Linked DNA regions of Homo sapiens: region 1 is linked to region 2. The links come from fine-mapping of genetic effects on gene expression. A gene starts in region 2. The other region holds a variant in brackets. All regions are shown on one strand. Distances are from middle to middle.

The links. PIP is the estimated chance that this variant, and not a neighbour inherited with it, causes the effect.
Region 1: its variant is fine-mapped to the expression of RASAL2 in tibial nerve (GTEx, PIP 0.96).

Annotation. Positions count from the first base shown.
Region 1 is chr1:177,964,920-177,973,255 of GRCh38, forward strand. It overlaps CRYZL2P-SEC16B (CRYZL2P-SEC16B readthrough), which reads right to left. Exons shown (of 32, transcript NM_001356506.2): 8 at 2,764-3,120; 9 at 974-1,086; 10 at 128-248. The coding sequence starts at 3,062. SEC16B (SEC16 homolog B, endoplasmic reticulum export factor) reads right to left here and starts at 5,139. Exons shown (of 26, transcript NM_033127.4): 1 at 4,965-5,139; 2 at 2,764-3,120; 3 at 974-1,086; 4 at 128-248. The coding sequence starts at 3,062. The variant G/A (reference allele first, on the strand shown) is at 4,383.
Region 2 is chr1:178,090,208-178,098,543 of GRCh38, forward strand. It overlaps RASAL2 (RAS protein activator like 2), which reads left to right and starts at 3,897. Exons shown (of 18, transcript NM_170692.4): 1 at 3,897-4,487. The coding sequence starts at 4,286. It overlaps RASAL2-AS1 (RASAL2 antisense RNA 1), which reads right to left and starts at 3,786. Exons shown (of 2, transcript NR_027982.1): 1 at 3,354-3,786; 2 at 1,301-3,205. RefSeq lists an enhancer at 3,373-3,874 and silencers at 3,496-3,545, 3,596-3,895, 3,966-4,125, 4,276-4,335.

The DNA of each region.
Region 1 (8,336 bases), 130 kb before region 2:
CTGTGGCTACAACAAAGGTACATGGGCTTCTGGAGGTGAGATGGCAGCATCAGACGCCAGAAGATTTGCCCGACATAGTCTGAGTTTGACAACATCATGTCAAACTGGCCTCTCCTTTCACACTTACTGGAAGTGGGTCTCACTATTTGTTCCAAATGGACTGTGCTGGTTTTCATAATGATGTTCATCAAGGTACTTTTGCTCTCGGTAATCTTCGTGCCAGATATAAGGACTCCGTTGCCTTGGCACTGCACCCTCAGAGAAAACAAAATCAAGACAGGTCACTTCCTGTTTCTGAAAGTTCTTAGAAAGATATTAGTGAGCTGTGAGGAGCTCCTGGAGCACAGTAGATCTAAAAACATATTTTCCAAATTGAAAAAATAGATAGGTGAGAGCTAATAAAGAAAGTCCATAGGACGCCTCTCAGTCCCCTCTGAACTAGTTAGCATGGATCTATACAACCGCACAACGATGGGGATTGGTGTGTGTGTGTGTGTTCAATGTTGAAACAGATTTATCTTTCCTAGCAGTTCAGATGCTGCCATTAAGACACACCCTATACCTATTAGCATACGGTAGAACACTCATTTGGGTGCATATCTGCTGTCCTCAGGGTGAAGTGATACACTCTTACTATAGCCCAGCAGATGTCCTTAAGAACTGACTTCACTGTTACTTGGTCAAAGACTATATAATCTGGGCTATAAGGCAAAGTAGGAGAAAAAACATGGATGAAGTACAAACTACCCATAGTGCTAGTAACAGTACCATCATCTATGCATACAAAGGAAAACAACTCCTTTATATCTCTTCTCAGGACATCTAGGAGGAGTGTTTCTGCTATGGTCTCGTCTGGCCAAGAAAGGATGCCCAAGGTGAGGGTCTGAACATGGCTCCTTTGGTCTCTCCCCTGCCTCTCAGACCAGCTGCCCCATCCCCAAATCCCAGAGGCTTCTTGGAGACTTTTCCATACCTCTTTCTTCCTGCAGCCACTGTGGGTGTCCATGATAGTAATAACTTCCATAAGCATATTCCTCCCTCATTGTGGGAGACTGATAGCTCTGATATGAATTCTCATAACCTGGCCTAAAATATCACAAAGAAGACTGGTCAGTTGAGGACAAGGGTAGTAAAGAGAGAAACCAATGAAGAACTTGACAAACTAAACAGGTTCAGAGGACAGAGTTGTGACCCCAGCCTAGAATCTGCTTGAAAGCCACAGTTAATTCTAGATCCTGTAAACAGAATCAAAGCAGGAGTCAGGCCTTTGTTGCACAACAGGAGTAGAATTTTTATAGTACAATTTTTTTTACTTAAAACTCTTTTTCTAAAAACCTCTTTTTTATTTAAAACTCTTTTATTTTGTAGTAAAACTCTCACTCCCCAAACACATACATATTATCTTAGAAAACTCCATCCTGATATTATCTGAGAAAACCACTTCCTGAGATGACTGTGTTAAGTCTCCAATACACCACCGTAATTTCCATGCTTATCCCAGATGGAGTTGAGATTTAAAAGTCAAACTGGACTATGTTAAGTCTGATTACTTTTATTGCCTCTGTCCTGAACACGCCTCTCTTTGAGAATTCAACAATCCAAAAAGACTGGGGAGAGGAACATCATAATATTAATGTTTTTATCAATTAATAATTTTTTTTTTTGAGACAGAGCCTCACTCTGTCACCCAGGCTGGAGTGCAGTGGCGTGATCTTGGCTCACTGCAACCTCCATCTCCCGGGTTTAAGTGATTCTCCCGTCTCTACCCAGGTAGCTGGGATTACAGGCATGCACCACCGCGCCCAGCTAATTTTTTTGTTTTGTTTTGTATTTTTAGTAGAGGCGGGGTTTCACCATGTTGACCAGGCTGGTCTCGAACTCCCAACCTCAGATGATCTGCCTGCCTTGGCCTCCCAAAGTGCTGGGATTACAGGCGTGATCCAGGAGCCTGGCCCAATTAGCAATTCTTTAGTATTTCTTAGGGATAAATTTCTTTATAATAATTGTCATAATTTCAACCCTGAATCTGTAAGCAGGTAAATATCACCCCAACTGGAAAAGCTGAAGTAGAACATAGACGGCTTCCAACATTCCATGAAATATTAAGTCCAGTGCTTACAGACCAGGGAAGCAGGAATTCCAGATTCTCCAACCTGGATAGAATGACCTCACTGCAACCTCTTCCTTCCGAACTTGGAGCCTGCAGGTTTCTATCTGCTTTCCCTGAGGTCAATTTTTTTTAAGTTCCCATTCATTCAATACAGATTATTGGTATGCCTGTTCCATTCCGGGTACTGTCGTAGGCACTAGGACTCTTCTTGGTGCTGGTAGTGTCATGCTAATCCCAAGGTAGAGTGGTCCAATGACAACGAGGAACTCCTTATAGGGATCTCCAAGAAAAGCTTTTCCATAGTCTACATAAATGAACTTTTGCAATCCCAGAGCAAGAGGGTTCCATCTGCTGTCTTGAATTTCACCACTTTTTCTACCCTTGACACTGCCTCCCCAAGCCCCCATACCCAGTGGCATTTGTGATGGCTTCTTTAAGAAGCTCCACTAGGGGAAAAACAGGAGAGAAATACTATCTTCAGTCATCAAAAACAAATTTGGGAGAGGACAGGATTTAGCTAAAGCCACGTAGTAAGGTAGAGAAGGAAAAAGAAAAAAGGGGGAGAAAAATAAAAGGAAAAGGAAGAAGGAAAAGAACAACCTATTCATACGCATTTAGGAGAGTTGCATTCATTCCAAGCCCTAAAGCCATACCTTGAATACAACTGATTGCGATAACCACCTTCGTAATAGTCAACTCCAGACACAGGCTGATGCCAGTCCCCTGGCCTGGATGCATAATGGGGCTGCTGCTGATGGTCTGCCCTGGGCTCCTGCTGTGGCTGGGGGCTCCCACGGTTGTCTTGCCATTGGTGAAACCTCTCTCCATTGTGCCAAGAGTGAGGGACAGGCCGATGATGTCCATCTCTCCGAAACCCTCGGTCTGGATCCTTTGAGGGTGCTGTGGCCTTCCCTCGTGTCTGGGGCAGCCTCTGGGGAGCCCAAAGTTCCATCCTTGACTCTCTGAATTTGTCCTGGGTTTTGAGTAAGTTGTGCAGTTATTTTATCTTCCTGCAGACAAAAGAAAAAGGAAAAAATCATCACTTGAAGCCTATATCCAAACATAGTGGTTGATTAGGTTTTGTGAAAAGAGCAGCTATGGTCCTCGAAATATATCTAAAACAAACCATATGGTCACGGATACAGAGAAATCTGAGAAACAATCTCAGATACATGAAGCAAATAACAGACTAGACAATTATATTAATATTGCTTAAAAAATTAAAAAGTACATGTGGAACAACGACAGATGAGGGAGGCAAGGGAGACAGATAACAATAATAGGTACAGCTAAAAATGCTATCAAGGAATCCCAGTTGATGTTTCTTCACATATTCCCCCAGCAAGTGTTTATTTAACACTTACAGCGGAGGCCCTGTGGTATCATAAACAGAGTGGGTCTTGCAGAGAGCTAGATCAGAGTTCAAATCCTAACTCTGCCACTTAACTAGCTAGTTCATTTTTTCAAGCCTCAATTTCCTTACCCATGAAATGGAGACTGTAAGGACTACCTTGCAAGGTTATTGACAGAGTTAAAGATAACCTATGCGAAGTGCGTAACATGTTACCTAACATGTTAAAATGCTCAATAAATAGCAGTGTTATCAAGGATAAAGATTAGGGTAGTATGAGTGGCTGAAGATGTTTATTAAACAAAAAGAAATTTAGACTGACCTTTTCAAGAAGCACCTTTTCTGAATCCTTACATTAACCCCCTCAAAGAACTAGAACCTATATAATATGGTCATACCTGCTCCTCCTCCAGAGGAGCCAACAAGAGGCAAATTTGGGATTGTTTTCATAAGAAAATAGAAGGCCATATCTCAGGATTCTTCCCGGTTGGAGATTTTAAATGCTGAAAGTCTCCCTAGCATCAAACTAATTTTCCCCCACGTAATCCTGAAAAAGGGAAATTGCTCCAAGGACTGATTACCTTCCAGGTTCCTCTGCCCATTGCACGGGGTAGCGGGGGACAGGGGTTGCACCCACAAAAGGAAAGCACGCCTCAGATCTTACTCTTGCTCAGGGATTCCTTGTGTCAGGAGCATCCACAGGCTAGGTCGGCCTCGATTTTTTTCTTCCTTAGGAACTGTTTTAGGTTGCAAGATTCTGATCAAATCAGTTAACTTGTTTCCACTACTGAAGGTCCCAGCCTCATATAAAAATTCATATCAGAACAAAAGGTCAAAAGAGTGGGTGTTGAAATTGAGACGTCACTCTGCTCAAACACCAGGGAGCCGAGGTCGACAGCTATGAGCCAAGAGCTATGAGAC[G/A]GCAGAACACACAAGAAGAACAAGGTGCGGAGGGGGCCTCCCACCTCAAGGTCACTCACAACTCAGGGGAACCTCTGGCTTCCTTCCCATATCATCTCACTCCCTTGAAAAAGCCAGGTGCAATGACAGCCTTTGCCAGCAAATCCCAGGAAAGGCCAAATGTCCCAGACACAGGGAAGGGCACATGAGCCTTTTCTGAAGGCTGGTGGAACTCAAAACCATTTGGACCAAGTAAGCAGAATGAGAAGAAACCTGCTTTCTCCTTGTCCCCAGATAGTCTCATTAGGCAGCCCTTTCCCAACTGCAAAGGTGCAACACCCAATCTTTCCACTGAAATCACATCATTTTGCTGCCAAGAGACATCAACTCCAGCAAATCAGTCCTCAGATTAAGGACACCAAATAAATAACACCTTCGATTCTCAAAATGAAGGAATTACATCTATGATGACAAATCAGACTCACACATTCATGTAGATGACCTTTCCTAGCCCCAGTAAAGGCAATCTTGCCTTTCCTAATCTGACGGCACAGCACGTCCAGCTCAAAGAGGGGAAAGAAGGGAGCGAGTGTTCCCACACACCTGCTCTGATGGCTTCCCACCTTCCTTCAGCGCTGCTCCAGGGACCTGGCCCAAGAGTGCCTCCTCTCCTCTTGGAGACTGTCAAAGTCCAGGTGCCACATCTACCAAGACTCCCCAGGCCCTCAGATCTACATCATGTCAGTTACCTTTGCAACTGCCCAACCTCCATGGAGCTGATTCATTAGGGCAAAGTACAGCCCAGATACCGCAGCCCAGGACCCGCCTGACTTGACGAATTTGCTCAGAACCCTGTCAGAGACTGGCGCTTCTGTTTGCCTGAGCATGGGCTGAGCCAGGTTCACTCACATGAGAAATCATCCAAATTCCCACAGCAATCACGGAAGAGAGACATCAGGAAGAGGAAGTCCAGAAGCCCCAAGGCAGCCTGGTCTGGCGAGAAAAGCACCACCTTTGGGGTGTTAACTCGGGGCTCTACCACTAGCTGGTTCTGTTACTTAACCTCTCCGAGTTTCAGTTTCTTTTTCTTTAAAATGGGAATGGCAATGCTTAGCTTATGAGGGTCATTACGGGGCTGAAATGTTGGTAAAGCAGCACATGATATATAGGTAAGTATGCCCTGCAGATCAATATTATCTTTTCCTTCCCAAAGAGACAAGTTAATTCCACTGGTTGAGGCACATGGGGAAGGGGACACGCTCACTGGTGGGAGCAAACACCTGGTTTGCCCAGTGTGGGTTTTTCTTATGTATATTTCTCACCATTGGGTTCTGGTTATGTAATAAATTCTGTCATCTAGCTGGAAGGCAGATTTATATCCCCAGTACTGAACTGAAGGCACTAAAAAGTTTTCCATTATAACAAGAAAGTAGTTTCTCGCACTTGAAATATACATTTCTTCTGCATTATTAAGGTAAACGCAGAAAAGCACATGACTACTTCTGAATTAATATTTTAAAATTCTGAATTTGCTCTTTTAAAAAATCCCAAATGGTTTATTCTTTCTCTCAACAAATGCTTACTGTGTTCCTATTAAGGGCCAGGATTTGACACACATAAATATAAAAGACACAAATTAGTCTCTCATGTCTGTCCTTACTAGTCCAGGGAAAACCACCCCTCTTGGGTCTCATGGTCATATAGGGTCATGTACCTAAGCTACAAGATTTTCTCTCAGCCCCTCAGCTGACTCTAGAACCCAGCAACTGAGCATAGAATTCTCTGACTGTAGCTAATGGTTTCTTTTTTTTTTTTTCCAAGACAGAGTCTTTCTCTGTCGCCCAGAGATGGAGTTTAATGGTACAATCTCAGCTCACTGCAACCTCTACCTCCCAGGTTCAAGCAATTCTCCTGCCTCAGCCTCCCGAGTAGCTGGGATTACAGGTGCGTGCCACCACCCCTGGCTAATTTTTGTATTTTTAGTAAAGAAGGGGTTTCATCATGTTGGCCAGGCTGGTCTCAAACTCCTGACCTTGTGATCCACCTGCCTGAGCCTCCCAAAGTGCTGGGATTACAGGCGTAAGCCACCATGCCTAGCCACTAATGGTTTCTTACCTCACTCTTGGGCTGTGAAGTTTGGCTCTCTAATGGCTGCACTGTTGTTTTTAATCCTTCTGGGAAGAGGAACTAGAGAAGAACATGCACATTAACAGCAGGAATCAGAATGTGGGTGATGATTACACTGACGTGATATCAAATTATATGTTCTGATATATCACAACAACATTCACAAAAGTTCTTGATGTCACTCTTTTGGCATATAATGTGACATTAGTCTTGCCCTGTAACACCAGCTGCATTATGGGAATGTTAACTTTGAAAAGGACCTTAGAGGTTATTTTAGCAACTATGCTTTTTTGATGATAAAACCAAGATCCAAACAAGTGAAATGATTTACCCAAGATCACAAAGTTACCTAGAAGTTCAGTGAAAATTACACTGGTGTGCTCTAGCTGCCTTGCACACCAGTGCAAGTTTAGTAAGAGCTGATTATTAAATATTCAGGAATTGTGTGAGCCGGTTGTTAAACCATGGAAAACTTGAAATCCACCATGGTGGGAGTATTTACACCACAGAAATTGGCAACTGCTACAAAGCAAGGTTGTTGGTGGGTTGCTGGTTTATTTCAGAGAACCTGTTTAGCAGCATACTGATTTGAACCCCAAACTCTTACTTCCTGATTCAGCATTCTTGCAATTATAGAATTGTCATTCTGTTACTAGCCTTCATTGCACAACCCTGGCTTAAACATCTAGTCAAATTATTCTAAATGCTTATTTTGTGACATCCCAAAGTATCTCTAATTATCTCTAGAGTTATTATGAAACTCTTCAAACACTCACCAACCAAAATTAATTCTAATTAGCTTTAATTATTCTATATAGACATATGGCATACAACAGTTATATGGGTCACAAAATTAACTAGATTGTGATGGGATCTCACCACTCCAAAGGGTTTAGGATTTATCATTTCCTACCTTCCCAGCCCCACATAACTACAATTACTAAGTCTTTCGACCTGGCAGCTCAATTCTTCCTGATTTCTAAACCAAATTGACCCAGTTTGACAATACATTAGGAGCTCAATCCCCACCAGGAGGTGGACCAGAATGAGTCTTGCCACCCCAAGTCCTGGCTGCAGTGTTCTTGGATAATCCAGTAGGCTCCCTCATGCCCAAATGGCTACAGTCTTCACATCATCCTGCCCCAAGTGCTCTGTCCTCATACTTGATTCCTGCCCTGCATCCCAACTATGCACCAGGATTGGAGTCCTAGAAGTTTACTAATTTATGTGAATTTCCTTTCCCAGTCTCCATCCTCCTTTCCAAATGCCGGACAGCACTGTCTAGGGTCTAGCTTCAAACAAGAGTAACTGCCTGCTGTGAACTGAATGTCTGTTTCCTCCCAAAATTCATATGTTGAAAACCTAACTCCCAATGTGATGGTATTAGGAGGTAGGCCTCCAAGAAGTAATTAGGGCATGAGAGTGGAGCCTTGTCAATGGAATTAGTTCCCTTATAAAAAGACACAAGAGGGTTTGCTTCTCCTCTCTCTCTCTGCTCTCTGGTGTGTAAGAATACAACCAAAAGATGGCCATCTGCAAACCAGGAAGTGGCCCTCACCAGACACCAGATCTGCTGGAATCTTGATCTTGGACTTCCCAGCCTCCAGAAGGGTGAGAAATAAATTTCTGTTGTTTAAGCCCTAGTCTATGGTTTTCTGTTACAGTAACCCAAACTGACTAAGACACTACCCTAGTTTGACACCTGTCTAGCAAAAGTATTATCACTGTTAATGATGCTGCTAATGTTTAGCCACCGGATTAGTGCTGATGGATGTGAACACCCACCTAGATCTAGGTCAGGTTTGCCAGGAATCCTTGAGCACTGTGATTTAATGACTGGTTACTCTT
Region 2 (8,336 bases):
CAATCTCCTAAGTAGCCATGTTTAGGTAGGTTGCTTAATACAATTCTATGCTTAATTTTTTTTTTAAATTCTCTAAATGATGATTTTAAAATACTGGTTCTACTTATCTCACAGAATTATTGTTCAGGTTGTGAAAGTATTTTCTTTCTTTCTTTTCTTTTTTTTGAGACAGGGTCTCATGCTGTTGCCCAGGCTGGAATGTAGTGGTGCAATTATGGTTCACTGCAGTCTCAAACTCCTGGACTCAAGTGATTCTCCTGCCTCAGCCTCCTGAGTAGCTGGGACTACAGGTGTTTGCAACCAGGCCCAGTTAATTTTTTTCTATTTTTTTGTAGAGATGAGGGTCTCACTATGTTGTCCAGGCTGGTCACAAACTCCTGGGGCTCAAGTGGTCCTCCTGCCTCAGCCTCTAAAAGCACTATGATTATAGGTGTAAGCCACCATGCCTGGCCTGTGAAAGTATTTTATTTTTAAGTTATGAACACTAGATAAATTTCAGACATACTATTACTTAGGCAATTAGATAATGACCTGCTGCTAGTCTGGGGTCAGGATAGGGAGGTGAAGCAGGGACCAGTATCTGGAACGTTTGGATTTAAAAAGTAGGATTATTGAAAATGGATTAAAGACTTAAATGTAAAACCCCAAACCATAAAAACCCTAGAAGAAAATCTAGGCAATACCATTCAGGACATAGGCATGGGCAAAGACTTCATGACTAAAACACCAAAAGCAATTGCAACAAAAGCCAAAATTGACAAATGGGATCTAATCCAACTAAAGAGCTTCTGCACAGCAAAAGAAACTATCATCAGAGTGAACAGGCAACCTACAGAATGGGAGAAAGTTTTGCAATCTACCCATCCGACAAAGGTCTAATGTCCAGAATCTACAAGGAACTTAGACAAATTTACAAGAAAAAAACAAACAACCCCATCAAAAAGTGGGCAAAGGATATGAACAGACACTTCTCAAAAGAAGACATTTATGCAGCCAATAAACATATGAAAAAAAGTTCATCATCATTGGTCATTAGAGAAATGCAAATCAAAACCACAGTGAGATACCACCTCACGCCAGTGAGAATGGTGATTATTAAAAAGTCAGGAAACAACAGATTCTGCCAAGGCTATGGAGAAATAGGAATGCTTTTACACTGTTGGTGGGAGTGTAAATTAGTTCAACCATTGTGGAAGACACTGTGGCGATTCCTCAAGGATCTAGAACCAAAATACCATTTGACCCAGCAATCCCATTACTGGGTATATACCCAAAGGATTATAAATCATTCTACTATAAAGACACATGCACATGTATGTTTATTGCAGTGCTATTTACAATAGCAAAGACTTGGAACCAACCCAAATGCCATCGATGATAGACTGGATAAAGACAATGTGGCACATATACACCATGGAATACTATGCAGCCATAAAAAAGAATGAGTTCATGTCATTTGCAGGGACATGGATGAAGCTGGGAGCCATCATTCTAAGCAAAGTAACACAACAGAAAACCAAACTCTGCATATTCTCACTTATAAGTGGGAGTTGAACGATGAGAACACATGGACACAGGGAGGGTAATATCACATACTGGGGCCTGTCGGGGCGTGGGGGAAAGGGGAGGGAGAGCATTAGGACAAATATCTAATGAATGCAGGGCTTAAAACCTAGATGACGGGTTGATAGATGCAGTAAACCACCATGTTTACTGTAACCACCATGTTACATAGGTATACATAGGCACATGTATACCTATGTAACAAACCTGCATGTTCTGCACATGTATCCCAGAACTTAAAGTTAAAAAAAAAATAGTAGGATTACTAAAAAAGCAGGATTACTGGCGGTTGGCAGAGGCCTTTTCTTGAGCTCAGGAATGGATGATGCCACTGAAAGAGCAGATGTGGAAATAAATTCTGGAAATGTTTCGCATACCACTTGTAATGCTGTTTTTAAGATAATTGCTTGGGTAAATAAATTCCTTATACATTGACTAGTAAAGAGATACTCAACTTTGTACATTTGATGCCATATTCACTTGCTGTCTAACTTATGTTACCATGGCATTAATTTAGTATAAATAAAAATGCTCTAGGTCTACTCAGTGCTGAGCCTTGAAATCTCAGCACTCAACATCTCTTATCCACTAAAGCACACACTGTTGTTTACACGTGGAAGACTGACTATGCAGCCAGTCTAGTAAGCAAGCAAGCAAGCAAGCAAGCAGGGTCCTAGATATTAAAAATGACCATTCCTGTAAACCATCAAGCCACAAATCAACAAGCTTAATCACAAAAGTTTCTTGAGGGAACAAAGTTGAAGTAATATCCATTGAGTCATTGTGGAACTATCTGTACTTGTGGTTGATTAGCCAGGTAAGCTGGTTTTTCCTCAGTTTCCTCACCTGTTAAACAAGAGGCAGAATGATGTTCTCTCTAAAACACTTCTTGCTTTGAAATACTATTACTCTAAATAAGACTTTGGAGAAACTCACAAAATACATCCTTGTTAACTCTCAATAAGCCCAAACAATATTCCAGGACCCCACAAAACCAGAAAACTAACAGGACCCCTTGTAGACCAGTCTCTTTGTGCAACGTAGGGAGAAAGGGCGGGGGGGACTAAAGAACCTCCCAAAAGGTATTAAAAATAGCAACATGTAATTATGAAAAATCTTGTTCCACATTAGGTAGCCACATTCAAGAAAAACTGTTGGAGATCTACTATGTCCAAGGCACGGTTTAAGTTATTACTGTTCAATTTTGAAATTATTATTGTTAACTTGTCAGTAATTTCTTAAACCTAAACTGGTGAAACTCTCCTTGGGTGGACATAAAAGTAAAGCCATGGCCAAGGAGGGAGACAGTCTACAAATAAACCAAAAATAAAATACAAGTGACATCATTAAAGGAAAAAAGCCAACACACTGCACAAAGATCAAAGACAAAACAGAGAAACATGTTTGGTTAATACTGGGCTTTGAGTATTTCATGTGCCTGAGAGGCCCGTCCGTCCATCCACACCACACTTCTTCACCATGCTGTTGCAAACCAATGACAAGTTCAGCTTCAGCGCGGACAGGGCGCAGGGCGCAGACCCTGTGCATATCCCAGAATCCCGGACCCACTGCCACTCCACTCTGGGAAGGAAGAAGGCGCTCCCCCTTGGGTGACTGTAAGATAAAGCAGCTTCTTCGATCTCTTTGTCCAATAAGAAAGAAACGTTGGCCCATAAAGAAAGAAAGAAACAAATAAATAGGAAAGGTGTGAGAAGGAAGGGAAGCTCCTTTCTTTTCTGTTTAAATTTCCCGCACCCTTTTACCTCCCCGCCTTCTCAAACGGTCTTTACTTTGAGCAGCAGAGACCCGGACCGCTCAATACCCGGCTATCCCTGGGAGGGTACTTGGAAAGTAGGCGGGACAGGCCGGATGAATAATTCGGTGTCCGACTTTTCCTGCCTGCGGCGCAGTCCCTCCCCGGCTTCGTTACTCGAGTGCACACGCGGCCGGGCTCTCGGCCCTCGATTGCTTCAGCCTATCACCCTGGGATGCCGCCTGCCGCTGCCGCCGCCGCCGCCGCCGCCACCGCCACCGCCACCGCCACCGCCACCGCCGTGGCTGCCGGGTTTGTGGGATCCGCCGCGGAGCAGGAGCCAGAGCTGTGGCCGGAGCTGTGGCCTGAGAGTCAGGGGGCGGGCAGGCTCATTCCAGAAGTGGGGGCCGAGGACAGGCGGGCTAGAACCCGGGGCCACCGCCCCCTACCCCTCCTCAGGCTGAGGGAACGGGCACTCGGAGCTTCTGAGGCGGCGGCGGCGGGAGCCGGTCAGAGGGGGCGGCCCCTGGCGGCGACGCCCCCAAGCCCAGCCCTGCCCGGCCCCGCTCCATCCCCAGCCAGAGCCTGGTCTGACCGCGAGAGACGCCGGCGGGGCTGAAGAAGGCGGCTCCGAGGAGGTGGGAGGGCGAGCCTCCCCTCCCGGGTTCTTCTGCGTCCTCTCCCGGGAGGGACCCACACACACCTGAGCCCGGACCCACCCTTGGTCGGGGCCACGCTGGATCCTCCTCCCGGCCTGGGTCCCGCCCGCCGACTGCAGGTGGGCTGCATCGCCCGAGCCTCGGGCAGTGGGCGACGGGGAAGGAGGTGAGAGGTGTCCGCGCCGGCTGCCGCTCGGGTCCCTGCCCTCGCTGCGCGCTCTCCTCCTCCCCTTACCGCAGGCAGGGCGCGGAGCCGCGCGCCAGCCCGCCCCGAAGCCGCCGCCTCGTCCCCCTCCCGCCTCGGGGCACCATGGAGCTCTCTCCGTCGTCCGGAGGAGCCGCGGAGGCGCTGTCCTGGCCGGAGATGTTCCCGGCGCTGGAGTCCGACTCGCCGCTGCCCCCGGAGGACCTGGACGCGGTTGTCCCAGTCAGTGGAGCCGTCGCCGGTGGCATGTTGGATCGGATCCTTCTGGAGTCCGTGTGCCAGCAACAGAGCTGGGTCCGGGTGTACGGTAAGGACCACAGGCCGTCTTAGAGGCTGGTGTTTCCTATTTTTGCTTGGGCTGAAATTCATTCCCTAAGTCACAGGCTCATTCCCAGTCCTCATCCGTGCTAGGTCAGTTTCCCACATCCCTTTTTGTTCTGGGGGTGCATTTCTGACAAGTTTCTTCAGACTATCACTTGGGCAGGGATGTCACTCAGTATGGTCTTTGGACCTCTTCAGACACCTGCAGTAAGTTTAATGCGGGAGTTGGGCTATCCAAGACGTAATTCTTAGGCGATTACTTCAAGGGAACAGCCAGGCAATCAATCTTCAAGAAGGTATGATGGAAAAACTCCATGAAACCAAGTGAATGGATTTTCGTCTCTTTTTATTGTTGAATGAGGCAAGACTGGAAACCAAGATATTATGAAAAAGCAGAGGATAAGCTAATGAATGAAAAAAATGCAAACTATGTATTTGGTGGGAGCAAGACTAATCTATAACCTCTGCCTGAACCTCACTCTCTCTAAAAGCAACCACTTATTCCAACGGGTGTGGATTGTTTCAGATTACACTATTGTTTCTGAATCTCGTTGTAAAGTGACTGGGTTGCCACTCAGCAGGTTAAAAGTGATGAACACACTAAAACTTTCCCTTTCTGCATTCCTGGTAACCACCTCTTTAATTAAAACTGAATGATGAGATTCTATTAGGGTGAGCCTTGTGGCAGCACTAAAACCATGCTGGTTTTGAAAACTCATAGCTTAAGGATTTATAGCCTGGCATTCAGGACTGAGCTGTGGCTTTCCAAAATATTGAAACGGCAAGATGTTTATCGCCTAGCTCACGTGACTGCAGAAGACATTAGTAACGTGGCTGAGTATAAGATGGCAAATTTGAAGCACCTGGGATCAAACACAATGTTAAGATGTTATCCTGCAGTCTTGTGCATCTAAGCCTGTAGTGATCAAGTACCTTATGTTTTTTTCTTTCATCTTTCTGAACAGGGTATATGCTTACTATTCAAGAGTGACCAAGACTTAGGTTTTTTTCTGTGTAGTTCAGTTGATTTGAAGACTTAATGTCCATCGCAAAGATCATAGAACTAGGAGTCCAGAGATCTCAGTTCTTGTCTCAGTTCTACCACTAAATGGCTATGGGATTTGGGGCAGATCGAGTCACATTTTTGGCTTGTGATTCCTCATCTGTAAAGTGAGTGGATTGGATTAAATCATCACTAGTGACCCTTTTAATCATAAAAATCCAGGAATTCTTCTTATAACCAGTTCTTAAGGATTTGTGTACCACTTTGTATTTTGCTGGCTGTTTCTTGATGTTACTCTACGTACCGGAAGATTTAAAGCAAAGGAGTGGGAGACGATGCAAGGTCACCCAGTTTGTTCTCAGCAAATTAGATTAAAAACTTTGGTGCCTGATTTTCCGTCTGCCTGCTAAATCCCACTTAGCTGGTCATTTAGAACAAAGGTTGGTGAGAATCTGAAAGTGCATATGAATTAGAGTATATTGTAGTTACAACGTTTTCCCATTCTATCATCTTTCTCTCCTTACACACTTCTTTGGCATACTGTTTATTTGTGTGATGTTAGAAATAGGGCCATGCTATTCTAAGAATACATGTATATGATAATTCGGTATTTCAGTATCCAAAACAATCTGGGTTCTCTGGACCTAGTGTTAACTATCGTTCTTCATTTGTAAGGACATAAAAGTCTACAAATGTATGTTGTTTTGTAGTCCATTCCTAGGGGTTGATTTGTGAAATATATATTGTATATTTTGTGTGTGTGTGTGTGTGTGTGTAAGAGAGAGAGAGAGTGAGAGCAAGTTTACATTATGTTTTTTTTCTTTCGTCCTTCTGAACAGGATATATGTTTATTGTTCAAGAGTGACCACGACTTAGAAGTTTTCTTTCTGCGTGGTTCAATTGATGTCAAGACTTCATATCAGACATCACAGAAATGCATGGTATGTATATGTGTGTGACACACACATATACATACCATGCCTTGCATTTTTGTGACCAATTGCAGACTTACCACTGCATTGTAACTTTTTTTGTTTTCTCTATCAATTAACCAGAAGTTGTTTTTATTTATTGTTTAGTATTGCTACTTTCCTTCCTCTGAGGCAGCTCATCCTGGATACTATTTTGTTGTCTTTAGTTTATGTAAATATTTCAGAACTATTGGAATGACTCTTGGCTATGTCCTTAGCTAGTTTTAAGTTGCCTATTGTATGAACAGGGTGTATGTTTGAAAACTTTGAAGTAAAAACTTTGAAATAAAAGTAATAGAATGTAGAAAAACAATTTGGAGAATACAGAATTTTTGTTTTTCTTGTTTCTTGTCTGTGTGTTCAAAACCTTCGTTGTCTTGGATCACCTAGGTTCTTCTCACAATTTAAAGAGACTTTGATGAGTGTAGTCTAACATGTTTCAGGGAAATCTACAAATTGGGAACCTAGTCTAGAGGATACAACTAGAAGCTTAGAGTATTGGTTTCATTCTGGCTTTGCCACAAGTTGGTTGTCTAATTCTGGGCAGGTAGTTTTAACTCATGGCCTCTAGGTTTCAGCATAAAAGTGGAATCTGGAGTAATTGGTATCTGTGGTCCCTTTTAGCTTTAAAGTTGTCTGATTCTGTGGCTTGGCCCATTATTTTACCTGCAGGTTGGCCTATAATCTTTATCCTGGCTCTTGGGGCCAGGCATTAACCAAGCCCTTAACTTAATGCATTTAAATCATGATTGTCAGGGAATTCTGGGGAGCAGTTTTATCAAAAGGTCAGTGAACTGAGTTTTCAAAGAAGATATATTGAAGGCAGATGTTTATTTATTTGGAATGTTTTCACAAGATAGGAAGATGAGTATGGCGATGTTGCTTAGGTCTAGTTCATCCAGTTTTGAGACCTAACCTACATAGCCATGTGGGTTCTAAAGGTAGGATAATAATAAGGAACTTTATTAAGTGCAATTTGCATCTCCTGCAATATACTTCTGTTTGAAATCATGATGGGAACAAACAACAACAGAAGTAACCCCCCAAAGAATATCTTAACAGGAACTTCTAGAAACAATATTTTATTAGTTTGCCTCACAAAATTTGAAGACTAGGCACTGTTTTGAGTTTCTTGTTGACAGGTTTGGCTCCTTGGTTGATAATACATATATATTGTGTACATATGTATATATTGTCATAATACGTATACTCAGGGTTTTGTGTATTGCCATGATTTGGAAAACTTTTCTGGAATATGTTCAGAGCTTTATAATAGGTGGCTCTATATTTAGAACACAAACTAATGCACATTTTTGAGATGTGGCTGAGAGAAAAATATTTGTGCTGTCTGTCCTAATCTTCATTTCCTTGTAGTTGTAAAATGTTTCATTTGTTTTATTCCAGTATTATAAGTTGTGCCCATGCCTTGTCAAGACTATAAAATTTTTGATATCAGGGAGCCTTGTTTATCTTTGTATTCTTATCTTGCCACCCCCTTCATTGTCAACTTGTCTGCCAGATTGGTACCTTGCTCATAGTAAGTCAGTGTCTGTTGTATGTTGATCCGTTTGTCCTTTGACCATCCAGATCTCAACCTGACTGACTGTATGGGTGGTAGAGTAGCTTAAACAAAGGCATGCCACAAACAGCTAAATATGGATACAGAATCCAAGAGCATCAAATGCAGAACATTTTTCAGATATTTATAGCCTCAAAGCAAAGTCAATTGGCTGAAAAAGCTCAGCAGCATAGCGAAAGGAAACGGGAGTGGCAAAGCCAGCCTCACTGTCTGTGCTTTCTGGTAAACAATGAGAACATTAAAATTAAATACTTTACCATGAATGGATGGGGAGTGTAGGAC